Regions from separate parts of the Homo sapiens genome. Here region 2 is linked to region 1. Evidence: fine-mapped expression QTL. A gene starts in region 1. The other region holds a variant in brackets. All regions are shown on one strand. Distances are between the middles of the regions. Region 1 holds the start of KIDINS220 (kinase D interacting substrate 220). Region 2 overlaps KIDINS220 (kinase D interacting substrate 220).

Region 1 (5,374 bases):
AGGACTTGCTATATTGCCGAGGCTGCTCTTGAACTCCTAGCCTGAAGTGATCCTCCTGCCTTAGCCTCCCAAAGCACTGAGATTACAGGTGTGAGCCTGCATGCCCAGCCTTGAACTAATTTATTAAGGGCTGTCTCTCTCCTTCATTCTTACATCCCCAGAACCTATTACAGATCTAGAACAGGTAGAAACTTAATAGATAACCATCAAATTAAATAACTGCATAGGTATGCTAAAGATACCTCTTCTGAAGGACTTTGCCCACCCACAGCCCCTGCTACCCTCAACAGCCATGTTCTCTAGCATCAGCCATTCCCAGGGATGGGCATATGATCTGTGGCATGAAACTGTTGAAAAAGATAAGCTGGGCCAATCAGACTTCTCTCTCTAGAACTGGGAATTAGAAACCAGAGACTGGGCCAATCAATATGGGTCACACATAAAATGATACAGTTCTGAGACAGCCAATCAGCAAAGAGAGAATACAACAGATATGAACAGAAAAGAGACTCCTCCTAAGTAAGAGAACAAATGTGGCCCCTAAGAGGAGGTCAGGGCTGCAGTGAGCCAAGATCACACCACCTGCACTCCAGCCTGGGCAACAGAGCCAGACCCTGTCTCAAAAAAAAAAAAAAAAAAAAAAAGTTGCCCCAGGGAGATGTAGAAAATGGAGGTACCTGGGATCCTGACTTCTTTCTGACTCTCATTCAATCCTATTATCTCCTTTTCCTTGAAGTAAAAGGTTTAAGTTTCTACTGTCTTCTAAACAGCCCTGACAAATACAGTAGCACATAAAATGGAGAAACTGACCGTTCTTGAGCAAAAGCAGGAAGAAGGGGATGGCACATTCATACATGATCCTATAAAAATTAATCTGGCAGTGTATGTGACCCAGACTGGAAAAATACAAAGAATCAGGGCCCTAGATACCAGTCAAGGAATCACCAGACAGTACACAAGAGAGGCAGTGGGAATAGAGAAGAAATGAGGGATATTAACTTGAAAAATATAAAATCCCTGACATTTGAACTTTCTGAACTACCAAAATATCCAGAAGAGATATTCTGGATATAAAGATAAAACTATGTGACTGGTTGGAAAAGAAAACAGGTGGAAGATGACCAGATGCCCAGCATAGGTGACTGAAGAATGGAGCTGCCCTTAACCAAAAAAAAAAAAGCAGGAGAAAGAGCAGACTTTTCTCTACTTAAGTTATGCCTCCTCCCTTCCACCACCCCAGCTGGGCGAATGGGGCTTTGGCCAGGCTGAATTTGAAGTGTCCCAAAAGAACTAGGTTGGAGAAACCCACCCAATACTTGGAAAAAGATACCGTTCACACTGTGTGTGAATGATCTGGAAATTATTCACACAAAGGGTGTAGAACAAGGATTCTCAAACTTGTGTGCACCAAAATTATTTGGGAAGCTTGTCAAATACACATATCCCTTGAGCTCCTCCCCGGGAGAATCCCATTCCCTAGATCTGGGGTGGTGCCCAGAAACTGACATTTTAACAAGCACCCCAAAATGATTCTGATGAAAGTAGTCCATGCTAGTAAAGCTAGAAGAGAACAAAGAACACACCTGGCCACGGCATTTCCCAACCTGGGCTCTGCACTCAATACCCCACGGTGGTTTAAAAAGGTGTAGATGTCTGGTCCTCAGTGTTGTCAAAATGTGGACAGGAACGAACCTGAAGGGGTGATTCCCGAGCCACACCTCAGGCCGAAGGAATGGGAATCTCTAAAACGCTAAGAAATCTACATTTTTAACAAGCGCCCATAGGGAGCAGAGATGGCTGCATAGTTATTCATAAAAAAATTTTTCATCGGTTTAAACCTGTCAACTTGAAAGAATAAAAATTCCAACATTACAAAGTGATGAAGAAATTATTTCCCTATAAATAAATCTTGGAGGCGTGGAAATCAATGGCTTGCACTATTTTGCCAGGCGTTTAAAAGCCTGCACAGGACAATGGAGCAATGGAGCCCACGATAAAAGCAAGGGAGAAAACAACACCTCCCGGCCCGTGGAAGCCTAGGAGGAGGAACCTAGAAAGACTAGCGGTACCAGCTAAGGGGGCTCTCAAGGTGGTGGATGTGCCAGAGGCTGCTTGGCAAAAGAAAAAAAACGGTTTTACCAACACCCTTCACCCCAACCCACCCGAGGGGCCCCTCAGGAGACAGACCACCAGAGACTCCAAGGTCGGAGACCTTCCCGGCGCTCCAGGAAACGCGGACTCGCCCCGAAAGCCGGGGCCCGAGCGTCCGGGGCCCGCGCCATGCCCTCCCCGGGACCCCCGGTCCGAGCTCGCCCCTTCCGCGCACTCCTCGGCTGTCCCACCTCCCCGCCCGACTCCCCGAGCCCGGCCTCGCCCCCGACTCCTCCCCAATCCCGCGGCAAAGCTTCGCGGACCGGCCTCCACACTGACGGTCTCCCAACCTGGTCCTCAGCTCCGGCGGAACGGGCCCGCTCGGCTGCAGGCGATGTCAGAGGACGGGGAAGCAAGAGACGGCGACTGCAAGCGCGTCGCCCTCACCACACCCGGCGGCCATATTCTTCCCTCTCCGCGAACTGACAGATCACGTGCCCTGGGTAGGGGAGGGACTCCGGGTTGCCACGCCCCCTGGGCGTGGAGGGGAGGGGCGGGGCGGGGCGTAGAGCAGGCGGGGCTGGAGGGGCCGCGGGGCGGGGACACCCAGGACAAGCGCCCCAGGCAAGGTTTTTCAGTGTCAATGTCACTCTTATTACAGTTAATTTATTATCCCTATTTTCCATTATAATCAAGCTTATTCAGAGAAATAAACATCAATTATATCTTCAGAAGAAACTGCACATACATAAGAAATGAAAGCCCGCTCAGCAGCCTTCTTCCGGATCCAGGAGCGAGACCTCTGCCTTTCGCGGGGCCTGTAGTTCACACTCCTTCCAGGTCTCCCAGCACCTCCCCTCACCTCCTTCAGCCTCCACATTCCTAGGCCTTGCTGCCAACAAGCGTCAATCTTGATTTTTGAAAAGGTCCAAGGATGATTACGACGTGCGTAGGTTGCGAACCATCGAAAAGCACCCACCAATGTGTCAACCTGGCAACTCAGGAAAAAGCCAATAAGGAGCCTGACTTCATCAGAAGTTGGTGCGGGGTGGGGACAATGGCTCACTCCTGTAATCCCAGCATTTTGGGAGGCCAAGACGGAGGATCACTTGAGCTCAGGAGTTTGAAACCAGCCTGGGCAACATGGAGAGACCTCTTCTCTACAAAAAAAAAAAAAAAAAAAAAAAATACAAAAATACAAAACTTAGCCAGGCGTGGTGTTGCACACCTGTAGTCCCAGCCACTTAGGAGACAGAGGTGAGAGGATCACTTGAGCCCAGGAGTTCGAGGCTGCAGTGAGCTGAGATCACACCACTGCACTTCAGCCAGGGCAACAGGGCAAGATCCTATCTCCAAACAAACAAACAAACAAACAAAAACGGAAGTTGGTGTGCCCCTCATGAAACAAGGAGCGAACACCCCAACGTGTACAGTGGAGTCCTAAATGGTGTGATTTCTTCGATAATGACTTGCTAAGGCCAGCCACTGTTGTAAACAGGGCAGGGTGGGTCAGGCGTTGGGGGTTAGAAGTATGGTAGGTGTATTAGCCCGTTTTCACACTGCTATAAAGAACCACCTGAGACAGGGTAATTTATAAAGAAAAGAGGTTTAATTGACTCACAGTTCTGCATGGCTGGAGAAGCCTCAGGAAACTTAAAATCATGGCGGAAAGGGAAGCAAACACGTCCTTCGTCACATGGCTGCAGGAAGAGAGGTGCCCAGCAAAAGGGTCAAAAGCCCCTTTTACATCCAACAGATCTCGTGAGAATTCACTCACTATCACGAGAACAGCACGGGGGAAACCGCTGACGTGATCCAATCACCCCCGACCAAGTCCCTCCCTTGACACGTGGGGATTATGGGGAATACAATTCGAGATGAGATTTGGGTGGGGTCACAGAGCCAAACCATATCAGTAGGATATAAGGATGAAGCCAACCTTAGAGTAGGGGAGAAGACAAGGAAACAGGTTAAATGTGCGTTATTTAGCACAGCCTTTCTGAGTCCTGACCATGTCCTAGGCACAGTGCAGTAAGGAGGTAAGCACAGAGGATGGAGTTACCAACTCTGCTTGGGGTCCACTAGGAAGGTTCACAAAAGAAGGGACCCCCCCCCCCCGCACCTCCAGCTGTATCTGAAGTATAGTTTGTCCATCACATCAGTTGGATGGGGCTAGGAAGAATGTCCAGGTCGGGGAACAACACTTTGGAAAAGAATAGAGATGAGAAGGAGGGTGGCCCAAAGTTCCAGGAACTGTCAATATTTGCCAGCCTTGGGGCTGGGGTGGCAGCATGGGAGGGGGCAGTAGATGGAGCAGGGGTCAGCCTCTGAAGGGCCTTGAGTGTTAAGTACCATTTGGGAATTTGTTCTAGGGAAATAGAAGGCCACTGAAGGGATTAGAAGAGTATCAAATTTGTCCTATGGAAATAGAAGGCTGCCTCCCCCAGCATCCACTACCCTTCCCACCACCCCCCAACCCCATCTTTCCTCAGCCTCCAGCTGTTTCCCTCAATCCCCTCCATCCTCCTCTTATCCTCTCACTGCTTCCTCCACCCTCTGCCCCCACATCCTCCCCCAACTCTCCCCACACCCCTCTTCCTCCCATCCCCCCCTCTGTCCTCCCGTCTTCCTCCAGCCACCCAAGCCTCTCCAATCCTCCCACCACTTCCCCTAGTCCTCCTTCTGTCCTCCCTCATCCTCTTCCCTCCCTCTCTTGGTAGCACAGTTTAGCACTCCCTCCTGGAAATATTTCTTTTTTTTTTTTTTGGAGACAGAGTCTCGTTCTGTTGCCCAGGCTGGAGTGCAGTGGTGCGATCTCAACTCACTGCAAGCTCTACCTCCCGGATTCACGCCATTCTCCTGCCTCAGCCTCCCGAGTAGCTGGGACTACAGGCGCCCGCCACCGCGGTCGGTTAATTTTTTGTATATTTAGTAGAGACGGGGTTTCATCGTGTTAGCCAGGATGGTCTCGATCTCCTGACCTCATGATCCGCCCGCCTCAGCCTCCCAAAGTGCTGGGATTACAGGCGTGAGCCACCGCGCCCGGCCCCCTCCTGGAAATATTTCTTCTCCTGGGCTTCTATCCCATTCTTCTGGCAGCTCCTTCTCAGATTCCACCTCCCATGAATTGTTGGGGTTGCAGAGTTCTGTCCCCACTGGACTCACCCATACCCCTCCCACCCACCCTTGCTCCTGCGTCACTAGTTTCAGAGACCTGGCTCCAACCCTAACCACCAAAACCGGAAGTTGGAAGTCATCTTCCCCCTGATTAAATGGTCAGTTA
Region 2 (5,374 bases), 100 kb before region 1:
TCAAAATGACTTGAGAAGTCTCCCTAATTCCCTCCATCTCATCGAAATTTTGATTGGCTCTGTTGGCTGGAGCACTATTGTTGTTCAGAGTCACGGTGCTGGGAGTTCGGTTCAGGTTGTAGGCTTTCTGGCATGCAGGCCAGTTTTCTTCAGGGCTGCTGGCTATCAAGCTGCATTCGGAAGGGCTTTTCTTGTCTTCTGAACAAATGGACATCCGAGCTATAATTGGATCTTGCAGGCCACTCAGGCTATGTGGGATTCCCCGCTTTCCGCTGTGACTGTCATCTTCCAGCTCTATGAGATTTGCCTTTTCAAGCTGGGAGTCATCCGCCACTTCATTGTGCAGAGAGTGATTGGGAGAACTTTCACTGGATCTCACTCCTGAATCCGATGAATCCTTTTTGTCAAGGAGCGCATCCGATAAATACTCTTTGGCTTTAATGAAGGTTCTGATCGGCTCAGCACTGTGTTCTGGAGACTTCGGCACTCTCTCTACTTTCCCTTCGGCTTTTCTGTCTTTGTCATCTTTGAGCAGTGGAGTGTTATCTGATTCTTCTGTGCCAGATTCATCCTCGTCACTTGGGAGTTTTTGATAGCGCAGCCCACTTCCCTTAAGCTTCAAATCTGTCTGGAAGAGGCTTGACCTTTCGGAAGATTTCTTGCCTGGGAGAAGCTTACTGCCTGACTGATCTGATTTTTCATCTTCTTCAGTGATAGGATCCAGGGGGGAAGCATCGTTGGTGGAAACCCCTGATGATGAATAATCGATAACATCTCCCCTCTTCATTAGAAAGGACTTCCTCCCATCATCGGGCTTTGGTTCACTATCCTTCCCCTTTTCTTGCTCTAGGTTTGAATGAATAGAGCCCCCTGATGAACTCTGACCCATGTAATATGTGCTATGTGGAGAAGATCTGCCACTAATGGTTGTAGACCCGGGGCCCCCTTCTAACTGGGACATCTGAGCAATGTATTCTCTATAGGCATCTCTATACTCGGCCTGCACCTTATCAGTAAGCTTTGAAATTTCAATACTGGAATCCTGGGAATTGAGACTCGAAAGACTTGGGGTTCTGCGAGTTTGTGACTGTGAAGACAGAAAAAAAATAATTTAAAAATTCAAATAAGAAGAAAAAAGGCATAAACATCAGCTTAGGAAATATATATGTACACTAACCATTTAAAAAGTCATCAAAACATCAAATTCTTTTAAAAGAATTCTACATAACACAGATTAACAAAAGCTGTGACCTTATAATGCTGTTACTAGAAAGCTTTCTATAAATTTTAATAAAATCAGTTTATTGTTAATATTTAAAAGTATGATTAAACACTGTATTAACAAATAATCTTAGCACTTGTTTCTGGTTTTTATTTCATTTTTAAGAGACAGGATCTTGCTGTGTTGCCCAGGCTAGATTCAAACTACTGGACTCAAGCAATCCTCCCGCCTCAGCCTCCTGAGCAGCTGGGACTATGGGCATGTCCCACATGCTCGGCCACAGCACTTGTTTTTATAACTTCAAACGTTTAGCTTTTATTTAAGGCCAAAGTCAACTTCATTGATAAAATATAAAATGCAATGAGGCCAATAGTTGGGCCTTAGTAAACAGAAAAATAAAGTAGTTTTACAAGTTTATTTCCAATATTAAGTTTTAGAATTAGAATTTGCTTCAGATCCCAGAATAGCTAAGAAACAAGGAGCAAAAAGTACAGATGAGGAAAAAGAAGGAGAAGAATCAAGAAAGTTTAAGAAGGGTCAAGAGCAAAGGCTAAAACAAAAAAGAAGGAGCAAAGTGAATTTGTTGGGGACCTTCTCAAGGAAATAGGACATTTTCTTCCTTCCCCAAGGCGCTGCTCCTCCTCACCGCTGCCCTGCCCTGCCCACTCAGTGTTACTCGCTGCCGCCCGCTGTGCCTCCTCCCCCGTTGTTCTCCACACCCTGCTCTGCTTTTCCTCCTGCGCTCTCCTCACTCCCGCTACTCCTCCTGCATCTCTCACTTTGCTCTGTCCCTGCCCCTACCCCTACCCCTCACCTGGCCTCCTTCTTCTAAGAATCTCCAAAGGAAGAACGCGCCTACATCTAATGCCAGACCAGAAGAAACCAATATCCGTGAAGGGTGTGCAGGCGTCCTGGAAAACCAAAGGATGGTGCTCAAAGGGACACTATGTGGCCAGTGTTCCAATGAAGATGTACTTCAACCAACAGTTACTGAATGCAACAGGAAGATCGCCTGAGAAAGGCTGAATTTGCTGACCACCCTAGCTCAAGTGGCCTAATCCCTATTGACTCTGCATGCTGTGACCCTGATGGATATCTCAGCTCTCATCAATGTCTACATGAGCTACTTTTTTGTTTGTTTCACTGACTGCCCCTCTCCACATGGATGCAGCTCCTTGAGTACAGGGAGCCCTCCATCTTGTCTCCTGTTCACTTAGGTATTCAGTAAGCATTTTCTGAATGACTGTCTAAATGCCCATATAATCTCAGTGAACTGAACGGTGTGCTTATTCTTCAATAATATGAAAAATGCCATTCAATAAATACCTGCCAACTTAGATTACTGTGACGAGGGGCACCTTCATCCAGGCCAAGCGTGTTCAGCTCTTCGAAGCTGAAGTTGAGTGTGTAGGGCGTCTGGCTGGAGAGCTCGGTGTGAGGCAGCTCGTTGTGGGAAGCGCGGCGAGCAGGCTCACCGTGCGGGGCTGGGCCACTGCTGCTCTCACTGAGGAAACGTGGGTCTTCAGGGACCACGTGGCTTTCTGCGTTTCTCATTTCTAGTACCTTAACAGAAGAAAAACATAAATATTTACACTAACAAATCATATTTTAGAAGCTTTAGAAATATTTAGAAATACCAAACATTATAAAGCTATTGCAACAGCAATGAGAAAGCATACTTCTGGTAAGTGAATTTCTAGTGAATTTGTTTTATACATCAGCTTATCTTTCATGTTCATTAATACTAAAGGAAGCAATGGTAGAAACCACCATACATATACTACACTGCAATTTGTCCATTAAATTATTACTTCTGTTTAAAACTTAACTTGAGGACAAAGAAAAATGCA[G/C]CTGGCTTGTGTCAAAACCAGAGCTGGCCAGGAGTAGGGCGGTAGGTCCAGATTTTATTCAGAACTATGGCAACAGGGGTAAGCAGTCTCACTACAGAAGGGAGTCCAACTCGGAATAAGCACGAATGAGTGGGGATCTACCACCAAGGGGCAGGGTGGGGGTCGTGGATGGAACATTACTAAGGGGAGGCAGCAGGAGTGGGGGACTCTTGGTACGCCGATGGCCAGGGTGAGCCGACATCACCTGGGGGTGGGGGGGTTAGTGAGGCGTTTGATCAAATACTGAGGGTGATCACACATGTAAACTGACTTAACAGGATTCTTGCTAAACCTGGGCAATGCAAGCCCTATAAGGATGAATGCTGAAGGTCAAGGCCTCGAAGGCTTTGAGGAGCCTGATGAGAGTTAAGGCAGGTGAAAGCATGAAGAACCGGCAGGCGGCCTCTTCCCCAAATCTCTGAGTGAAATGCCCAAAAAGGCAAAGGCTGCCAAGTGCTGCTGTGTGTATTTTCCACAACACAGGATTGCACATAAGTGTAAGAAGCAGTTTTTAAATTTAAAAAAATATGAAAAAAATACCAGTTTAGGCCAGTACTTATTGATACTGGTTTTCTACAATGTTATAAATAATTTTGAATGTTATCATAAAATAATGTTGTAAACATCACAATGTTACAAATATCTTACTGTGCTTCTGAAAAGGTGCCAGTCTCCAAAATTCATATTCATCTCTTTCTTCAGCTCATCAATGTTACACTGAGCTAACACACGGCCATTTATGTTTGCCTGAGTAAAAATTAAAACAATTATGGGTATAAAGACAGAATGTGAAATATTCTGAATTACTAGTGATTGCCAAGTATGCTTATATTTAGTTTTAAATAAGTCTCTAGAGACCAGAAAGGCTGACCAAAAAAAAGGTTATCATCCCATATAATAATACAATAAACAAGCTGAATTTGAACAACATCAGCCACTTCATATTTTCCCAAATGTCTTAGGCATTTTCTGGGACCAACCGAAGAACTAACCCTCCTATTTCCAAAACTACCTATGCTGTCATGAGCAACAACAAAACTGTTAGTTTTTGTTTTCTAATCTTAGAAAATATGAACATGAACACAAGCTGCTGGGAGGGGACAAAGACATCTGTTCTCATAAGCGTGTTGGTCACTAACAACGTTCTAAATGAAGTAGGCCTGGCAAACTTGTTTATCCGTTATATTAGATACAGATATGAAGAATGCCCACCCACTAATTTTCCAGTCTATTAAATTCACAAGGCCCGGCGCGGTGGCTCACGCATGTAATCCCAGAACTTTGGGAGGCTGAGGTGGGTGGATCACCTAAAGTCAGGAGTTCGAGACCAGCCTGGCCAACATGGTGAAATTCCATCTCTATTAAAACTACAAAAATTAGCTGGGAGTGGTGGCACATGCCTGTAGTCCCAGCTACTTGGGAGGCTGAGGCAGGAGGATCGCTTGCACCCAGGAGGCGGGAGGTTGCAGTGAGCCATGGCCACGCCACTGCACTCCAGCCTGGGTGACATAGCAGGACTCCATCTCAAAGAAAAAAAAAATCATAAAAAAGGAAGTTATTACTTTTGGTTCCCTGTAATTCTAGTTTCCCCTAAATGAAACAACAGCATTTTCTTTATTAATAATAGGTAGCTTACTGCTTTTATAAAATGTAAAACCTGACTTTATTAACTGGGGCAAATTTATGAAATAGCTATGTTTATAATCAATAGAATGTTCAGTTTCCAAGTTAATCCTGAAGAAAACAGTATACACAGCAAGTCTGTGACAGAGGTCCTGCTGCAACAATGCCGCGGAGCCCTAAGCACGGAGGAGGCCAGCGGCTCTGAGGGGCTTCAGAAAGCCGGGGTCTAGGAGCAAAGAGCTGAGTGGGGAGAAAACCACTACCCCGATGGGAACAAAATCATCACAAAGGACTCGTGTGGGAGACCCCGCTCTTTCCTGACACCAACCAGCTGCCTGAAGGAGAAAGTGGGGCTTATCCATGGAAAAGCCGGTGTTTGACTCATGCAAACAGGGACTAGCACGAGCCAGCTCTGTAAGGAAACTGACATTATCTGAAACCTTTCTAAAATTGGCTGAGATGAGTAAAATGGTGTCTACATATGCTCATAATTCTTTAAAAAACTTCTCTCAGATGTCATTCTTTCAAGTATATAAATATTAGAGGCTGGTTATTAACGTTCTACTTTATTACACAGTACTCTGATATAAAAAGTATACCTTAGTGAAATACCTACTATAAAGACTTCGTTAAAACCTTC

The links. PIP is the estimated chance that this variant, and not a neighbour inherited with it, causes the effect.
Region 2: its variant is fine-mapped to the expression of KIDINS220 in whole blood (INTERVAL, PIP above 0.99). The same link has a PIP of 0.9 or more in tibial nerve.

The regions. Positions count from the first base shown.
Region 1 is chr2:8,835,039-8,840,412 of GRCh38, forward strand. KIDINS220 (kinase D interacting substrate 220) reads right to left here and starts at 2,575. Exons shown (of 30, transcript NM_020738.4): 1 at 2,442-2,575. RefSeq lists silencers at 2,632-2,691, 2,702-2,751.
Region 2 is chr2:8,730,896-8,736,269 of GRCh38, forward strand. KIDINS220 (kinase D interacting substrate 220) reads right to left here. Exons shown (of 30, transcript NM_020738.4): 28 at 3,760-3,858; 29 at 2,549-2,785; 30 at 1-1,087. Among named protein-coding and RNA genes, the nearest start is that of ID2, 52 kb to the left of the region's middle. The variant G/C (reference allele first, on the strand shown) is at 3,073.